Linked DNA regions of Homo sapiens: region 1 is linked to region 2. Evidence: fine-mapped QTL for protein levels in blood plasma. A gene starts in region 2. The other region holds a variant in brackets. All regions are shown on one strand. Distances are between the middles of the regions. Region 1 has its middle 40 kb from the start of BPIFA2. Region 2 holds the start of BPIFB1 (BPI fold containing family B member 1).

The links. PIP is the chance, under the fine-mapping model, that this variant and not a neighbour inherited with it causes the effect. Protein levels are from antibody-based Olink assays in UK Biobank. Linkage for the fine-mapping came from a reference panel and not from the study's own genotypes, which makes the PIPs less certain.
Region 1: its variant is fine-mapped to the plasma level of the BPIFB1 protein (UK Biobank, PIP above 0.99).

Annotation. Positions count from the first base shown.
Region 1 is chr20:33,124,033-33,132,362 of GRCh38, reverse strand. No RefSeq gene overlaps it. Among named protein-coding and RNA genes, the nearest start is that of BPIFA2, 40 kb to the left of the region's middle. The variant A/G (reference allele first, on the strand shown) is at 4,461.
Region 2 is chr20:33,275,177-33,283,499 of GRCh38, reverse strand. It overlaps BPIFB1 (BPI fold containing family B member 1), which reads right to left and starts at 286. Exons shown (of 16, transcript NM_033197.3): 1 at 246-286. RefSeq lists enhancers at 1,213-1,713, 1,714-2,214.

The sequences.
Region 1 (8,330 bases), 150 kb after region 2:
TTCCTGAAACCCTCTTGGGGGTTTGAGGAACGTCAGAGCAGGAGGAGGCTGCAGCCCAGAGAGGCCGAGCCATGTCACACAGCACTGACCCCAGTGGGCCTCTCCTGATCCCTCCTGCCATCCCTCTCAGGTACCCTGGCTCTACCCAGTGCCCTCTGAGTGTCACTGGTATGGGAATGGGAGTCAGCCACAAGGTGGCTGGGGCACTGCCTGGGGCTGGCTGGCTGGCCTCCTGTCTGTCTGCAGCCTTTTCACCTGTTTCACACTTTACTCAGCAGGAGAAAGAAAAACGGCCCCACCAGGGTGGGGTGATGGCAGGCTTGAGGGACAGGACAGCAGGGCCAGGCTGAGTCGGGGAGAGAGTGCTCACGGCCAAGGAGCCAGGGCCTCCCATGCTTGAAGCTTGGTTTGCACCATCAGAAAAGCAGGCATCTGGGGGCTGGAGAGCTCCCTGTGGGAGGCCTGGCCAGAGGGTGGTCTGCTGGGGATGGGGCAGACCAGCCTGGCCAGCGCCTCCACCTCCAGGGAGCTCTTCCCTGGAGTTTGATGCAGAGTCCTGGTGGATGCTCCATTTCTCTGGCTGTTCATAGCCTTCTGTGATTTATGCCAGGCATATTTCTACAGCCTTTGGAGGAAACACCATACTTGATGGTCAGAGCAACCTCTATGTTTTGTTCAGAATTCCTTAAAACCATGTGCCCCTCACACCATCTTTATTGAAGCAGGACAGACATACATAAAGGGCCCATACCATAGGCAGAGGGCTGTAGGGATTTGTACAAAGTGAAACTTCCCAGGGGTTAGGGACTAATCTGTGTCCCCAACCAGCACCCCAAATTTATATGTTGAAGTCCTAACCCCCCGTATCTCAGAATGTGACTGTATTCAGAGATAGTGTCTTTAACGAGGTAATTAATCCATTTAAAATGAGCTCATGAGGTGGGGCCTAGTCCAGTATGACTGGTGTCTTTATAAGAAGAGATGAGGACACAGACACACACAGAGGCAAGGCCATGGGAAGATGGAGCAAGGAGACGGCCATCTGCAAGCCAGTGAGAGAGGCCTTGGAATGAAACGGACCCTGCCAATACCTTGAGCCTGGATTTTGAGCCTTCCAGACGATGAGAAAAATAAACACCTGTTGTTTAAGCCACCCAGTCTGGGGTACTTTGTTATCGCAGCCTGAGCAGGCTAACATGCCACCCAACCAGCATCCAAGCAAAACATATGGCATCGTCCACATCCCCAGAGCCCCACTTAGGCCCCTCCCAGTCTCTAACTTGCCCCCAAAGGGAACTCCAGTACCATTCTCATGTCTCACACTGCAGATTCATTTGGCTGGGTTTTGAATGTTACGTAAATGGAATCGTGCAGAACGTGCCTTTTTGTGCCTGGTTCTTTCACTCAACATCACAGTTGTGTGATTAATCCATGTGGTTGTGTGCAGGCCTTGTTTGTTCATTTTAAATGCCTGAGTGTGCTCCATTGTGTAAGTTACCGCAATGTCGTTTTTCCGTCTACTGTTGATGGGTGTTTGGGCAGTTTCCAGTTTGGGGCTTACGTACAATGCTGCTGCAAAGCTTCTGGTGCCTTTTGGTGAACATGTGTGCTTATTGCTGTTGGGTGTGTACCCAGGAGTGGAATGGCTGGATCCTGCGGTTTGTGAGTATTCAGTTCCAGTAGACACTGCCAAGCAGATTTCCACATACACCATCTGATACTCTCACCAGCAATGAAGGCAAGTTCTGATCGCCAGCACTTGGCATTTCCCATTTTACACTTTAGCCATTCTGGTGGTATCACATGACCCTCACCCGTTTGCAAGTTGACGTCTCAAATTTTCAGCATGAGTTGAAGTAGTTGTCAATTTTATTTTCAGGGGATTGCAAATACTGACATTTAAAAGGAATACATTTATATTTCTTTATGTGCATTTATACATGTATCCAATGGACTACAAATTCCACAGTGGTTTGATTTCCACCTTCGTCCATTTACAAACATGTGAACTGGCCGGGCGCGGCAGCTCATGCCTGTAATCCCAGCACTTTGGGAGGCTGAGGTGGGCAGATCACCCAAGGTCAGGAGTTCTAGACCAGCCTGGCCAACATGGTGAAACCCCATCTCTACTAAAAATACAAAAAAATTAGCCGGGTGTGGTGGTGCATGCCTGTAGTCCCAGCTACTTGTGAGGCTGAGGCAGCAGAATCACTTGAACCTGGGAGGCAGAGGTTGCAGTGAGCCAAGATCATGCCACTGCACTCCAGTCTGGGTGACAGATTGAGACTCCATCTCAAAAAAGAAAAAAACCACAAAAAAGAAAAAACAACAACAAAAACGTGAACAAATTCTTTAACAGTCAGAAATTTTGTGGCATTCTTTTTTCTCCTTGAATTTGTATTTGCATTGCACAAAAAGCACTGTCCCCACAGAGTTTTAGTCTAATGTAATAGATATTTATGCTTGAAAGTCCGATGTTGATTAAACTCATTCATCCATTCCTTCATTTGCTCATTCCTCCATTCATCTAAATACAGTGTATTGAACGTCTGCTACAAGCCAGGCTCTGTACTGGGGTCACCAGGTGAGCAAAACAGACAAAAGCTCCTGTTCTCATATAACTGACATTTTAGTTGATATATAAACAAAGCAAATAAGTATAACAGTGATTGGTGGAGTGAGGGGGAGGCAGGCAGGGCAGAAGGAGAAAAGAGTTGAGGGGAAGGAGGAGAAATTTTAGATACAGAGGTCAGAGAAACCTTCCCTGAGAAGGTGACTTAGAGTGAAGACTGCAGAGGGTGAGAGAGGCAGCCATAATACTATTGAAGGTTGACCAGTCCAGGCAGAGGGACAGTACATGCAGAGGCCCTGGGGTGGGGAAGGTGCTGGTGCATTACAGGAATAGTTAGGAGGCCAGCAAAGCTGGTGTGAAGCTCGCAAATGGAAAAAACAGAGAATGAAGTTGGACAGGGAAGGAGAGAGGTAGACTCTTCTGCATCAGAAATATCTATCTTTGTTGGTGTGGATGCGGTGAACAGGAAACACTTCTACACTGCTGGTGGGAATGTAAACTAGTACAACCACTATGGAAAACAGCATAGAGATTCCTTAAAGAACTAACAGTTGAACTACCATTTGATCCAGCAATCCCACTACTGGGTTTCTACCCAGAGGAAGAGAAGTCATTATGTGTAAAGATACTTGCACATGCACGTTTATAGCAGCACAATTCACAATTGCAAAAAATGTGGAACCAACCCAAATGCCCATCAATCAATGAGTGAATAAAGAAACTGTGGTGTGTATATATATACGATGGAATACTACTCAGCACCTTCATCCATTTAAAAACATGTGAACTGGCCGGGCATATTCATTCCTTCAGAAAGGAATGAATTAATAGCATTCGAAGCAACCTAGATGGGATTGGAGATTATTATTCTAAGTAAAGTTACTCAGGAATGGAAAAACCAAACATTGTATGTTCTCACTTATAAGTGGGAGCTAAACTATGAGGATGCAAAGGCATAAGAATGACTTTGGCGGCCAGGTGCAGTGGCTCATGCCTGTAATCCCAGCACTTTGGGAGGCCGAGGCGGGTGGATCATGAGGTCAGGAGATCGAGACCATCCTGGCCAACATCGTGAAACCCCATCTCTACTAAAAATACAAAAATTAGCCAGGTGTTAGAGGCGCTTGCCTGTAGTCCCAGCTACTCGGGAGGCTGTAGCAGGAGAATTGCTTGAACCTGGGAGGCGGAGGCTGCAGTGAGCCAAGATTGTGCCACTGCACTCCACCCTGGGCAACAGAGCAAAAAAAAAAGAATGACTTTGGCAATTCAGGGGGAAAGGGTGGGAAGGGGGTGAGGGATAAAAGACTACAAATCGGATCCAATGTATACTGCTTGGGTGATGGGTGCACCAAAATCTCACAAATCACCACTAAAGAACTTACTCTTGTAACTAAATACCATTCCCCCAAAACCTATGGAAATATAAAAATTTGTTAAAAAGTAAACATTAAAAAAATATGTATCTTGATTAAATTTTTTTCAAATCTCCTTTGACCAGTGGACACTATGTATTTAAAATAATCTTTTAGATTGTTACTATTAATAGTGATATACAATTTATCAAAACAAATTTTGATAATAATTAAACACAAAGTAATATTGATTTGGAAATGGATGTGTTAATGACATGGATTGGGCTTTTTTCCAATTAGTTCTTTTAACAGATTTATAATTTGCTTATTGCTAGAAGGAGGCAGTGTTTAGCACTCATCAGAGACCTAATTTTCATTTTTAGAGACCTAAGCGCTCTTAAAAAACATCCGCTTATTTGTTTAGCAAATACAGGTCAGCAGATAAGAATGAACAGAGTTTTGGTAAAACAGTGTTGCTCAATTCTTTGAACTGCTTTCAATGTAAATGCCAAAAATCATGTGATGATGTTTTATCA[A/G]AAATGGTTTTGCAACAATTCCAGCAGATTAATACCACCACCAGCAGCAACACTCCTCTTTTGTTGAAAGCTAATTGAAAACCACCTGGCTTGCTTCCTGGCCACTGGAGCATCACTCTGTCCCTTTGTTCAGAGCCCTGGAGGTTGAGCCCCCCAGGCAATGCACTTGAGTAGGGGTTGGGGACAAAGAGAGAAATGCTAAGAAGCAGAAAGATTCAGTGGCAGCTCCTATCTGTAATCCCAGCACTAGGTGGGAGGATCGCTTAAGGCCAGGGGTGGGCAGGCTGCCTGGACAACACAGTGAGACCCCATCTCTACAAAAAATATGTTAGCTGGATGTAGTGGCTCATGCCTGTAATCACAGCTATTCAGGAGGCTGAGGTGGGAGGATTGCTGGAGCCCAGGAGTTCAAGTCTGCAGTGAATTATGATCACACCACTGCACTCCAGCCCAAGTGTCAGAGCGAGTTCCTGTATTTAAATTAATTAATTTATTTATTTATTTTTGAGACAAGGTCTCACTCTGTCACCCAGGCTGGTGTCCAGTGGCGTGATCTCAGCTCACTGTGGCCTTGACTTCCCGGTCTCCAGCGATCCTCCCACCTCAGCCTCTTGAGTAGCTGGTACCACAGGTGCGCACCACCAATGCCCAGCTAATTTTTGTATTTTTGGTAGAGATGGGGTTTCGCCATGTTGCCCAGGCTGGTCTCGAACTCCTGAGCTCAAGTGATCTGCCCACCTTGGCCTCCCAAAATGTTCGATTATCCCTGTACTTAAAAGAAAAAAACAGGAGAAAGAATGTGGAAAAAAAGATGGGAAAGGAGAAGCCACCCTTAAAAGGAAGATTCTTGGAAAAGAGAACACAGGAATGATGACACTGCAGAAATGGATTCATTTAAATAATCCTACATTCAAATCTGTGGACAGTTTTCTTGTATCCCTGCTCCAATCCACTGGATTAAAGATGGTCGAGGCATCTGTGGGCACTGGGTTTAAATCCTGAGTCTTCCATTTATGAGCAGTATGCTCTTGAAGTGGTCAGCTAACTTGACTAAACCTCAATTTCTCATCTGTAAAATGAGGACAAGAAAAAGTAAAGAAATAGGGAAATATAGGGCTTGGCCACGTGGCACCTGGCACATGGCAAGTGCTCGGAACATCTGAGCTGCGACTGTGACCATCCGAGCTGTGACTGTGACCATCCTGTCCATCTTCCTTTAGTAGAGAGCTATCACCATGGTTGCCGTGTTATCCTCATTAAGTAGGGGCAGTCTTGGAGGTGAAAGGGTCTGCAGGGCAGGGCTTCCAAGCCCCACAGCAGCTCCACCTGTTTTTCTATCAGGGAGCCCAGAAACCCCCATCTGAAGCCACGGCCATGCTGTGTCTTATATCAGGTAAATTGCAGCAGGGATACAAGAAAACTCTCCATAGGTTTGAGTATAGGATTATTCAAGTGTCAGTTTCAATGCTGATAGTGCAATGTGGACTGACTCCTAACCTCACCCCCACCTCCTCTGGCCACTTTCCAGGACCACACCTATGGCTGGATTTAAATTTCCCCCCATAATCTCTGTGGCTTAGGTTAGGATCTGGCGCTCTGATGTCAGGACAACCTGCATTTGAAACCGAACTTTGCTCATCATGCACCAGGTGACCTCAAGTGCCCTCTCTGGCCTCAATTCCCCTCTCTGGGCCTCAATTCCCTCACATGTAAAGTAGAGATAATGGTTGTTCCTGCTTTGAGGAGCCGTTGTGATGGCTGAATGAGTGCATGCCAGGAGCTTATCACTAAGCTGGGCACCGAGTAGACTCGATCCATTGTTGCTGTAATGATCAGAGGAAAGAGCCCTGCAGGCGAGATCAGGAGGCCTGAATCACCATCCCAACACTGCCTTTCCTCACCAGATCACCTTCCCATGCTTCAGTTCCCCCACTTGTGAAATGGGAATTCGAATCTCTGCTTTCTCTCTCAGTTCCCAGATGAGGGTCAAGTGAGATTGCAACCACAACATGCTTTATAACCCTCCTGTGGGGTAGGGCACTGCCCAAGTGTGCGGAGGAGCATGGGAACCTGCTCCTGGACCCCTGGCAGTACACTGGAGAAATAATAGACCCCCAGGGGTTAGTGGATGGAGGTTGGCGGGGGAATCACAGACTTGGCAAAGATTTCCAGGTCCACACTTGGCCCACAAAATAGTAGAGCTGCCTAAATTTGGATGACAATAGGGAAGGGAGGCTGTCCACATAACCACATAACCTGGCATATAGTAGTTGCTCAATTAATGCTCACTGGATGAAGGATCAGATGCTCAGATCTGTGACTCATGACAGGGCAGATCTGGGCAAAGACAGGACCTGGGAGTCTTTTCGGGTCCAGAAACTAGGAAAGAAGGTCCAGAACCAGAACAGTGACGACAAAAGGGTCCCAGCAACTTGAAGTGGAGAGGGCTGTGGCAAGACTGGGTGAGGACAAGAGCAGGTGGAGGAGGACTGATAGGGCCATGGCAGTGTGGCCTGAGAGACTGGGAGGGAGGTGTGGAATCCCCCAGGGGGCAGATATATGGCATCTGGTGAGGCCAACAGGTGAGATGTCAGCATTCAGGTGGGGCGGGGAGGGAGGCAGGTCTGGAGTCAGCTCAGGGCTCAGAACAAGTGTTCCTTAGAGCTGAGCCCCTGTGGCTCCCTTTGGGCAAATGCCCGGCTTGTTTTTATCAAACCTGGGCCATGCCAGCTTCTGTATTCGTCCTTTTCCGAGTCACCTTTTGCCTGGAAAGTGGCTGGGCTGGGAGTTGACAGCTGAGCTGTCACACTTGGCTCATACCTTGAGCAGGGGAGGGAGACACTCTTGGGGCTTGAGGGATCCCGTGGAACACCATCACATGTAAGTCACGGTCACCTGGACTTAGAGGTGGGCATCAAATACCTGGTTCTACAATCAACTCCATCACCTGCTTGCTGTGTGCCCCTTGCCCTCTCCAAGCCTTAGTTTCCCTGACTGCCTAAAGGCAAGAGTCGACTAAAGCAATGTTTCTCCAAGTGTCCCCCAATCCAGCTGCATCAGACCCACCCATGCAGCTTATTAAATTTGGATTCCAGTTCTCCATCCTGGAACTACTGAGACAGAAGCTCTGGGGAGTGTGGGCCTGGGGATCTGCAATTTTTTTACCTGCTGCCCTGGGGCTTCTATGATGAAGTGAGAGAAACTTTGATGAGGGCTCAGAGGCTGGGTCCTGACCCTGCCGTACTACTCCTGGTAAGTGGCCCTTTGATGTCCTGGGCCTCAGTTTCCACGAAAAATTAAAGGTCTTATGGGGGGAAGCAGGAGAGGACTTGCATTTCTTGAGCTCCATGCTGGGGACTTTTAGGCTGATGGTGTCAGTGAACCACAGACACTCACTCTGCTCCAGAATCATGTGCAAAACAGAAAGTTTAATCATTTGAGAGCAAGCATTGGTGACATTGGCAGGGTGCCTGCATCCAGTTGGAGAACCTCAGGCATGGCAGAAAGAAGGTGGTAGCTGGGGCATGGGATGGGGCTTCATGCCTGAGCTCAGACCTTGGGGCTTGGAAGTGGGGACACCTCAGGGATCCAGGCGGTAGCACTCACTTCACTCAAGGAGGTCTCATGAAATGAAATGCCAATGTCCACTTGATCAGATCCCCTCCCCTGCCCCCAGGGGTCTCCTGTCTTCCTCCAAGGCCCTGACTCCAGCCTTTCTCACTCCAGTCTACTTTGTCCATCTCAGCATATCCAATACCAATGTCAGGTACCTCTCCTCCCCAAGAAACTTCCGTAGCTCCCCACTGCCTGCAAGAGAAAACCCAAACTCTTCAGCCAGCCTTCCAGGCATCAATGCATTCATGATCTGGT
Region 2 (8,323 bases):
GTCACTAGGAAGAGGTCAGGAAAACACTCAGCCAGCCCCATCCCTTCGTCACTGCCCTTTGGTCCTCTGGGCGAGGGAGCTGGGCATCTCTCTACACCTGGCCCTGACCCTCAGCGGATCCTGACTCACCGAGGGCCCTTCCCTGAGGGCGAGCCTCCCCTGTGCTCCTGACCTGACCCCAACAGGTATCTCTAGCTCAGAACCTTCCTGGCAACCTTGGCTTTCAGCCCCTTCCCTACTTTTACCTGGGCACGCTGGAGTCCTCGGCCCGCTCCTCTCCTCTCCCGGGCAGTGGGTCTGGAAGTCCAACCTTATATCCTGCACACCCCAGCACAGGCTTTGTCTTTAGGCAGAGGCCTCAGACCAGGCCGAGGTCTCCAAGGTAAATATTTGTGGCTTCTGCTGAACCACAGCCCCGCCCGGAGGCAGCCTTGGGACTCCAGCTTCCTGAGGTTTGGAGAAAGGAAGGTCCAGGCTGAGAGAAGCACAGTGCATATAGCAGAATAAGCACTCCATAAATGTGAGTGGCCGTTGCCATTAATATTATTATTGCTTATAATAGGATGAGCCTTTGTAGAGGGATTACAACAATTGTTTAATCCAGATAATCAATTTGGGAAAAGGAAGGAGTAGCCTTACCCACCCCTTATTCCTAAATACATCAAAGATACACATCTCCATCAATTAATTCACCCAGGAGAATAGATTTGAATCCTATTTTTGCCACTGCTTTGCTGTGTGCCCTTGGGCAAGGTACTTCACCTCTCTGGGCCCCAATGACCTCATCTATAGCATGGGGATAATAGTAGCTCCTCCTCATAGGTTGTTAAGAGCATGAGTTGAAGTGCATGCCTACACAGTGCTTAGCATGGGCTTTCATTTCATTCATTCATTCATTCCGCAGCAATTAAAATCTGCTCTACCTTGTCTGCATCTTTAGGAATCTCCATGAGCACTTGTGGACCAAAAGAATAAGGAGGGATGACCATGAACCTAAAGGACAAATGTCAGAGCCCAGCAGGACGCTGTCATCCACCACCTGGGCCCAGGTCTTGGCTCACGCAGCCTGCACAGTCACCCAGAGGTGGGCATCAGCAGCGTTAATGTTACAGAGGGCACCTGAGGCTCAGAGAGGCGAGTGACTTGCTCAAGGTCACATGACCAGGGATTCCAGCTTTGGGACCTGAACCCGATCATCAGTCCAGACCGGACCCTCTTAACCGCCACACTGTCCTTCCCCTGAGACTTCAATTTAGCACTGGAGGTGGTGGTGACACCAACATGGCCTTTTGATGTCATCTGGGGAATTATCCTTGCTACCCAGTTTTTGTCTAGAAGAATGGAATTGTGGTTTAGAGCTGGGATGGCCATTGTTGAATCCTGTCTCCATCTGCAGCAGACAAGTCAGGGGCAGTAAGTGTTCTGAGGTCACAAAGTACGTGGCCAGGCCCTGGCTGGTCTCTTCCTCCTGCTTTTTGACAAGAAGAACAAGGTGAAGAGCGTTTGCTGTCCTGCCATGTTTGCAAACACACCAAAAGCCCTGAATACCTAAAGGTGAGGTGTTTTGAGAGAGCTCTTGGGAGGACCCTGCCGATCCCTTGGGCACATCTCCAGAGAGGCAAATGCCCCTGCTTGGCTTCCCAGCTGGCCATGCCCACTGCCCATGGACAATGACCCTCTGTGCGGTGCTCGGGCCCAATGCCAAGACCTGGGGCCGCATCAGCTCCTGCTTCCTGCCACGTGCTGGGACAGCAAAGCTGGCTGCATCTCTGCAGGCCCATGGTCCCCAGACTCCACACCTGCCCTCAGTACCGCGTGGCCCCTCCTCAGGTTGCTGGCGTCTCTTGGCCTTGGCTCCACCTCTCTTCAGCTCCCAGGCCTTTTTGTGCCGTGTCCTCTTTCTGGAGTACCTCCTTCACCCTCCTGAAAACCTAATTGTGCCCTGTCTGGGAAGAAGCGCAGGAGTGCAGGAGGAAGCCTGTGGAGGCCGACAGACACGGCTCAGATTCCTGCTCCTATACTGACAGCTGTCAGCCTTGGGAAAATTGCTTCTTCTCTATGAGACTGTTTCCTCCATTGTGAAATGGGACTATTTTGAGGGTCTCGTAAGGTCATGAGAAATGCTTGAAACATCAGAGAATTCAGCAAGTGGTAAATTCACACCTGTAATACCAGCATTTTGGGAGGCAAATACTGGTGGATTACCTGAGGTCAGGAGTTTGAGATCAGCCTGGTCAACATGGTGAAACCCTGTCTCTAAAAAAAAAAAAAAAAAAAAATTAGACGGGCATGGTTTTTAGGTGGCACGTGCCTGTAGACCCAGTTACTCAGAAGGCTGAGGCAGGGGAACCACTTGAACCCAGGAGGCAGAGGTTGCAGTGAGCCAAGATCGCACCACTGCACTCCCGCCCGGGCTACAGAGCAAGACTCTGTCTCACACACACAAAAAAGAACGCAACATCTGCATAAAGCTGCCTGACTGCTGCTCCACCTGGCCTGGATGTCCTCTTCCCAGCATGTTTGGCTGCTGGCCACCTTTCAGCCCTCACCTCTCTCTACTTCATCCCTCGCTCCTCTCACTCCCACCCCAGGGCCTGCGCACATGCTGGCCTTATCCCAGGAGCGCTCTCCTTCCAGCTCTCATTCTGGCTTCTTCTAATTCACCAAGTCTCAGCTACAGTGTTGCCTCCTGGGGTGGGGTGGGGGAGCAGGGGACAAGGGGACCACCCTCTCTAAGGTAGGGCTCTTTTTGCTGCACACTGAGGGTGTCCTTACTAGCATTTACTGGAACTGGGTCTGAAAACTTGAGTGTTGTTTTAGGCACCATGATTTCCCAGATGCTGTATACCAAGGAGAGGTCCTGGGCCACAGACCAAGCAGTGGCTAAAAACCAGTTGCACAGCTCCTGCATCTCTCATGCAGGGGGCCCTGACCCAGATTAAGGCAACGAAAGGGCCAAGAAGGGACAGGAAGAAGATGGCAGAGGTATTTCTTGGGAGACAGCTGTGGTCCCTCCTCCTCTCCCAGGGAGGAGGGCAGGAGGTGTTTGGGCCTCAATGCAGGCCTAGCAGGAGGGACCTTTTCAGGGACCACTTAGGGGCTTGAGGTTTGTCTCCCCTGGAGTTGGGGCTTGCAGTAGACTGGGTTGTGTCTCCTGATGAGTTGAAGTCATGTTGGGCAAAGTGACTTCCGTAAGTGGAAAATTACTGCTCTCTGTTCCCTCTGGGCAGGGTCAAAGCGCATGTGTGTGTGTGTTTTCCCAGGGCCGGGTGTGGACCCTGCAAGACGAAGATCGGTCTAGGGCTGCTTGAAGTCCTTCCTAGTATCACCACCTGGAGAGGACGCTAGAGAACCAGGGGCTGGGAGTGGCTGGGGTGGCCTGCGGGACAGTTAGCCATCAAAGAGGCTCTGCCCTGGTGTGGGGGGTGCAGGTCAAGAAGCCCCACAGGGAGGTAAGACTACCTCTTTGAAGGTGCCGACAAGACTTGGCTCTCAACATTTTTTGGGCTCCCCAGAGAGTTGGGAACTACCTGGCAACAATATCAGTCAAAGGAAAATTCTCCTGCCCCTTTTCTTCCTTCTGGATGGAGAGAGAGAGAGAGAGAGAGAGAGAGAGAAAGAGAAGGAGAGGGAAGTGCAGGGAGAGAACACACACCTCTTCTCCCCTTTCCCACCAAGCTGATCCACAGAAGCCTCGGTTAGGGGTGGGGAGATAATCTGATGTTAAATCAAAGCTGGATGCTCAGACACAGCAAGATGGCAGAGTGGAAAAGATCATCTCCATTCTACAGATCACCAAACTGAGGCCAAGAGAGGAGAAAATAGGGGTTTTTATCCTCCCATTTTCCAGATGAAGTAGGACCTTGGAGAAGGGAATTGACTTGCCTAAGGTCCCACAACCATAAAGCAGAGGGCCAGGATTGGGACCCATTTCTGTCTGAATTGAGAGCCCATGCTCCACGCACTGACCCAGCCTGCCCTACCATCTCCAGCCAGAACGAGGGCCAAGCTCTCCTGGGAAGACTGCAGTCATGCGGAAAACCAGAGAGGGTTTCTGATGACGTGGACAGATGGAAATCAGAGGCCTTGCCAACTGTCACTGGCTCGAAAGAAAGAAGGAAAGCAAGAATTCAAGCCACTCCTAAAGAAGCTCAGGTCCTCCATTGTTGCCACCAAAGATGCTCCACCAGCATGGTAGAAGCATTTTGCTCTTGTACCAATTTCAGCTGCCTGGTGATGGCTCTTGAAGCTTTCAAGGGTCTGGGCTCAGCAGGAGAGAATGTGGTGATTGATTAACAATGTCGGTCATGAGCAGACACAGATGCTTCATCCTTGCTACATCCCACCAGCATCCTTGTTAAGGATTATGGATTTTCTTGCAAAATATTAAAGATAATGGAGTGGGGAGAAAATCCCTAGATGACATGGAGTTTGCCACTACCTTTGGGCTGGTTTTGGATAAGTCAGTTCTCTCTGAGCCTCAGTCTCCCCAGCTATAGAATAAAGATGTTGGGCTCCACGATGCAGTGGCCAGGCTGGCTGTGATGACCTTTGCTTATAGTGGAGGGGGCTCAGTTCTTATGCAATGAGGACTGGGCTGTTTCTGAGGTCAAGTATGTTGTTAGGAAGATCAAACCCATTGACCCAGGGTCAGTGGAGGTTCTGCCAAGGGAACTGGCCAGTGATTTGAGCATAGAGAACTGTGAGGATGCTCACTGCAGCCTTACCTGGAATAGCCCTAAAGTGGGACCCGCCTTAACATCCAGCAATGGGATTTATTAAATAAACCGTGGGCCACCAGGCAGCCATCACAAAACAATGTAGACCAACCAACAGAAGTAAGTGAAAAGGGAAACTGTTTCTTCTATTTTTTAACAAAAAAAAATTTTTTTTAATCTAGAAAAAAATACTGGAAGGAAATGCATCAACAGTACACGTTTCTTGGTGGTGTGATCACAGGTCACTTTCACCATCTTCTTGGTATTTTTCAGAATTAAAAAAATGTTTACACTAAATATATGTATTGGATATGTAAACAACCCCACTAAATGGCCTGCAAATGAGTCAATAAAGGTTGGGCGCAGGACAAGGGAGTGGAGGAAACCTCATTCCTTTCCCAATGCCCGACCCACAGCCCCCACCAACCTGGGACTCTGAGGAATTATTGTGATGCCATTGCTGATAGCAGCAACAAACGCCCAGTCATGCCGGTCCCGGAACCACCAGGAAAGAAATAAAGAAATCATTACTGGAACTTACAACATAATCCCTCTTTTGTGGGACAGAAATAGATTAAATTCAGTGCAAATGAACCCTGGCTAAGTTGGAAGCTGTCCTAGCTCTTGGGGGGAGACAAAGACCAGATCTCTGCCCTCGTGGGGCCCACAGTCCAGTTGATGAAGGTGTGTTGGGTGACCCAACAGAGGTGGATGCAGGCAGCCGGCTGAGTGCTGGGATTTTCATCCACGTGGGCAGCATGTGCGTAGGCTCAGAGCTCCAGGAATGGGAACCCAGGCAGGGTGATGTGTTGCTTTCACTGCCGTGAGCCTTGGCCAAGTGTGCAAAGTACCAGGATAGAGGTGACACAGGGATTGTTATTAGGGCCAGACGAGCAATACAAATGCCAGGGTGCAGACAGGATGGGCTTAATAAGGCCAGCACAGGTCAAGTATGTCAAACAGTAGAACAGGGGCAAACACACAGATGGTATGGTCAGCACTGAGAGAGAGGGAGGCTGGCACCTGCCTCGTGTGTGACAGTCGCTGGCAGCTCAGTGGGGCCCAGAAGGGGATAACCTGCCTGATTAGGGAGGGGAAAAATGATTTCTTTCTTTCTTTCCTGGTGATTCTGGAACTGGCATGACTGGGCTTTTGTTGCTGCTATCAGCAATGGCATCACAATGCTTCCCTGGGGAATAGTTCAGAGAAGGCTTCCTGGAAGAGGTGACATTTGATCTGGGCTTAAGGGATAGGGATGTGTTAGGAGGGGAGGGCATTCCAGAGTGGGAGCCTTTCAGGGGCAAAGGAAGGAGGGTGGGTTTTGGAAAGAGTGTCTGGGAGCTTGCCTGAGTCGCTTGAAGGGGAAGGGAGTGGGGCGGGTGGCAGGGAAGGTGGGCTGGAGGGGAAGGGAGTGGGGCGGGTGGCAGGGAAGGTGGGCTGGAGGGGAAGGGAGTGGGGCGGGTGGCAGGGAAGGTGGGCTGGAGGGGAAGGGAGTGGGGCGGGTGGCAGGGAAGGTGGGCTGGAGGGGAAGGGAGTGGGGTGGGTGGCAGGGAAGGTGGGCTGGAGGGGAAGGGAGTGGGGCGGGTGGCAGGGAAGGGGAGCTGGAGGGGAAGGGAGTGGGGCGGGTGGCAGGGAAGGTGGGCTGGAGGGGAAGGGAGTGGGGCGGGTGGCAGGGAAGGTGGGCTGGAGGGGAAGGGAGTGGGGCGGGTGGCAGGGAAGGTGGGCTGGAGGGGAAGGGAGTGGGGCGGGTGGCAGGGAAGGGGAGCTGGGGATGTTCTCATGAGGAGTCAGAACCAGGGGCTGGAGGTGAGATGGGATTGGGGATGGGAATGGAGCACAAGCAGGGCTGGGGTCCTGAGGCCCTCAGTGCCTCCCAGAACGCTGTGGGCTGTATGGAGCCTCCCCCAAGGCAGGGGACAGTGTGCTCAGATCCTCAAAACCAGGCCTCGGGTAGCCTGCTTGTCTTCACTGTCTGGCTTTCCCAGAGGTCTCTGTCTTGCTCTTGCCATCCCCTTCTCTTTCTGTCTCTCCTTCCCTCCTCCTCAGGCTGTCCCTGCCCTGTCTCTCTCTTACCCACTGTCTCTCTCCTCTCTCTGCCAATCTCTTGGGTGCTTTCTGAAGCTCAGGAGGGAGCTGGGCGGCCTGTGGAGAGTGCACCTGGACACACTACGCGGTGACCCGCCCCTACTGTGTGGCCTCAGGCAAATGTCCTCACCTCTCTGTGCCTGCAGTCTGTGCCTGGCAAAAGGGGCTCTGGGCCCCAGCTGTCGGCCTGTGCTGTGCCTGGCCTTGACATGGAAACCACCCAATCAGATGAGCAGGTCCTCTTTCCAGGCCCTGCCCTGAGCATGGTGTTAACTCACTTTGACTTCACAATAGCGGTGCTGCAGGGGACAGGAGCTGGGACATACTCACAGCACGCTCACTTAAAGCAAAGCGGGGAACCCCAGAAGGAACTCTTGACACTGGGATTTCTGTGACTGGTATTGCAGTTGCTCTGATTGATATCATATCATATTGTCTAGCTGTAACTAGATAAAGGAAGACAGGAAGGGGTGACTTACAAAGTTCAGCTGTTGTGAGAACCCTCACGTACCAGTGTCTACCTGTCCTTGAAAACGGTGTGACTATTGAGTGGGGGGCTTGGGAAATGGGCAGGTCCCTGGGAGATGGGGGAATCACTGGACCAGGCCCCTGGGGGCAGCTGAGTCCCTCAAGTTGGGAGCCTCAGTTTGGGGTGCTTGGAGGTTTAACCTCATCTGCCCTCAAATGGCCATCCTTGGAGATAGATTCTTGAGGCAGCCCCCACCCCCACCCCATCTCCAGTCTCTCCAGGTCAGGAGGGCGGGAGAGGTTCCACTAGCAGCCCAGGGCAGGGCCAGAGAGGCTGGAGCAGGCTAGAGCCTAAGACTTTGCTATGTTGCAGGGCTTGTATGATTTTAGGGGTCAGTCCCCCAGTATTTCTCTCCCAACCCTCTAATTTTCTTTAGTAATTCAAGACTGGTGGCACAAACAGATGCAGTCGGCTAGCAGGTCAGTTAGTCAGTCAGCAAATGCACCTTACACACCCTCTGTGTGGACACAGAGCTGGGTGCCTTGGATATAGCAGGGAGCCCACAGATCAGCCCCTGCCCTCCTGGGGCTCACAGTGTCCTGGGGAGACAGAGACGGAGGGAGAGCAAGAAACAGACAAATAAATATACAGTCACAATGTGCGATTATCTCAGTCATGATGCGGAACAAAAATGAGAACATGTGTAGGATCCTGAAACGACACCATCAGAGGCTCATGAGAGGTTTCAGCCTCCTGGGAACGCCCTGGATGCCCTCCCCCAACCAACACTCAACACCCCTGCCACACACACACACACACACACACACACACGCACACATACACACACGTGACCCTCCCTCTATTCATCTTCCACGCATTTGACTTTGGAACACAGTTTTGGGGGCCAACAATGTATGAAAGGAAGGGAGCTTTATGAAATGTATAATATAAATAGCCCTACTATTTCTTTTTTCTTTTCTTTTCTTTTTTTTTGAGACAGAGTCTTGCTCTGTCTTGGAGTGCAGTGGCGTGATCTCAGCTCACTGCAACC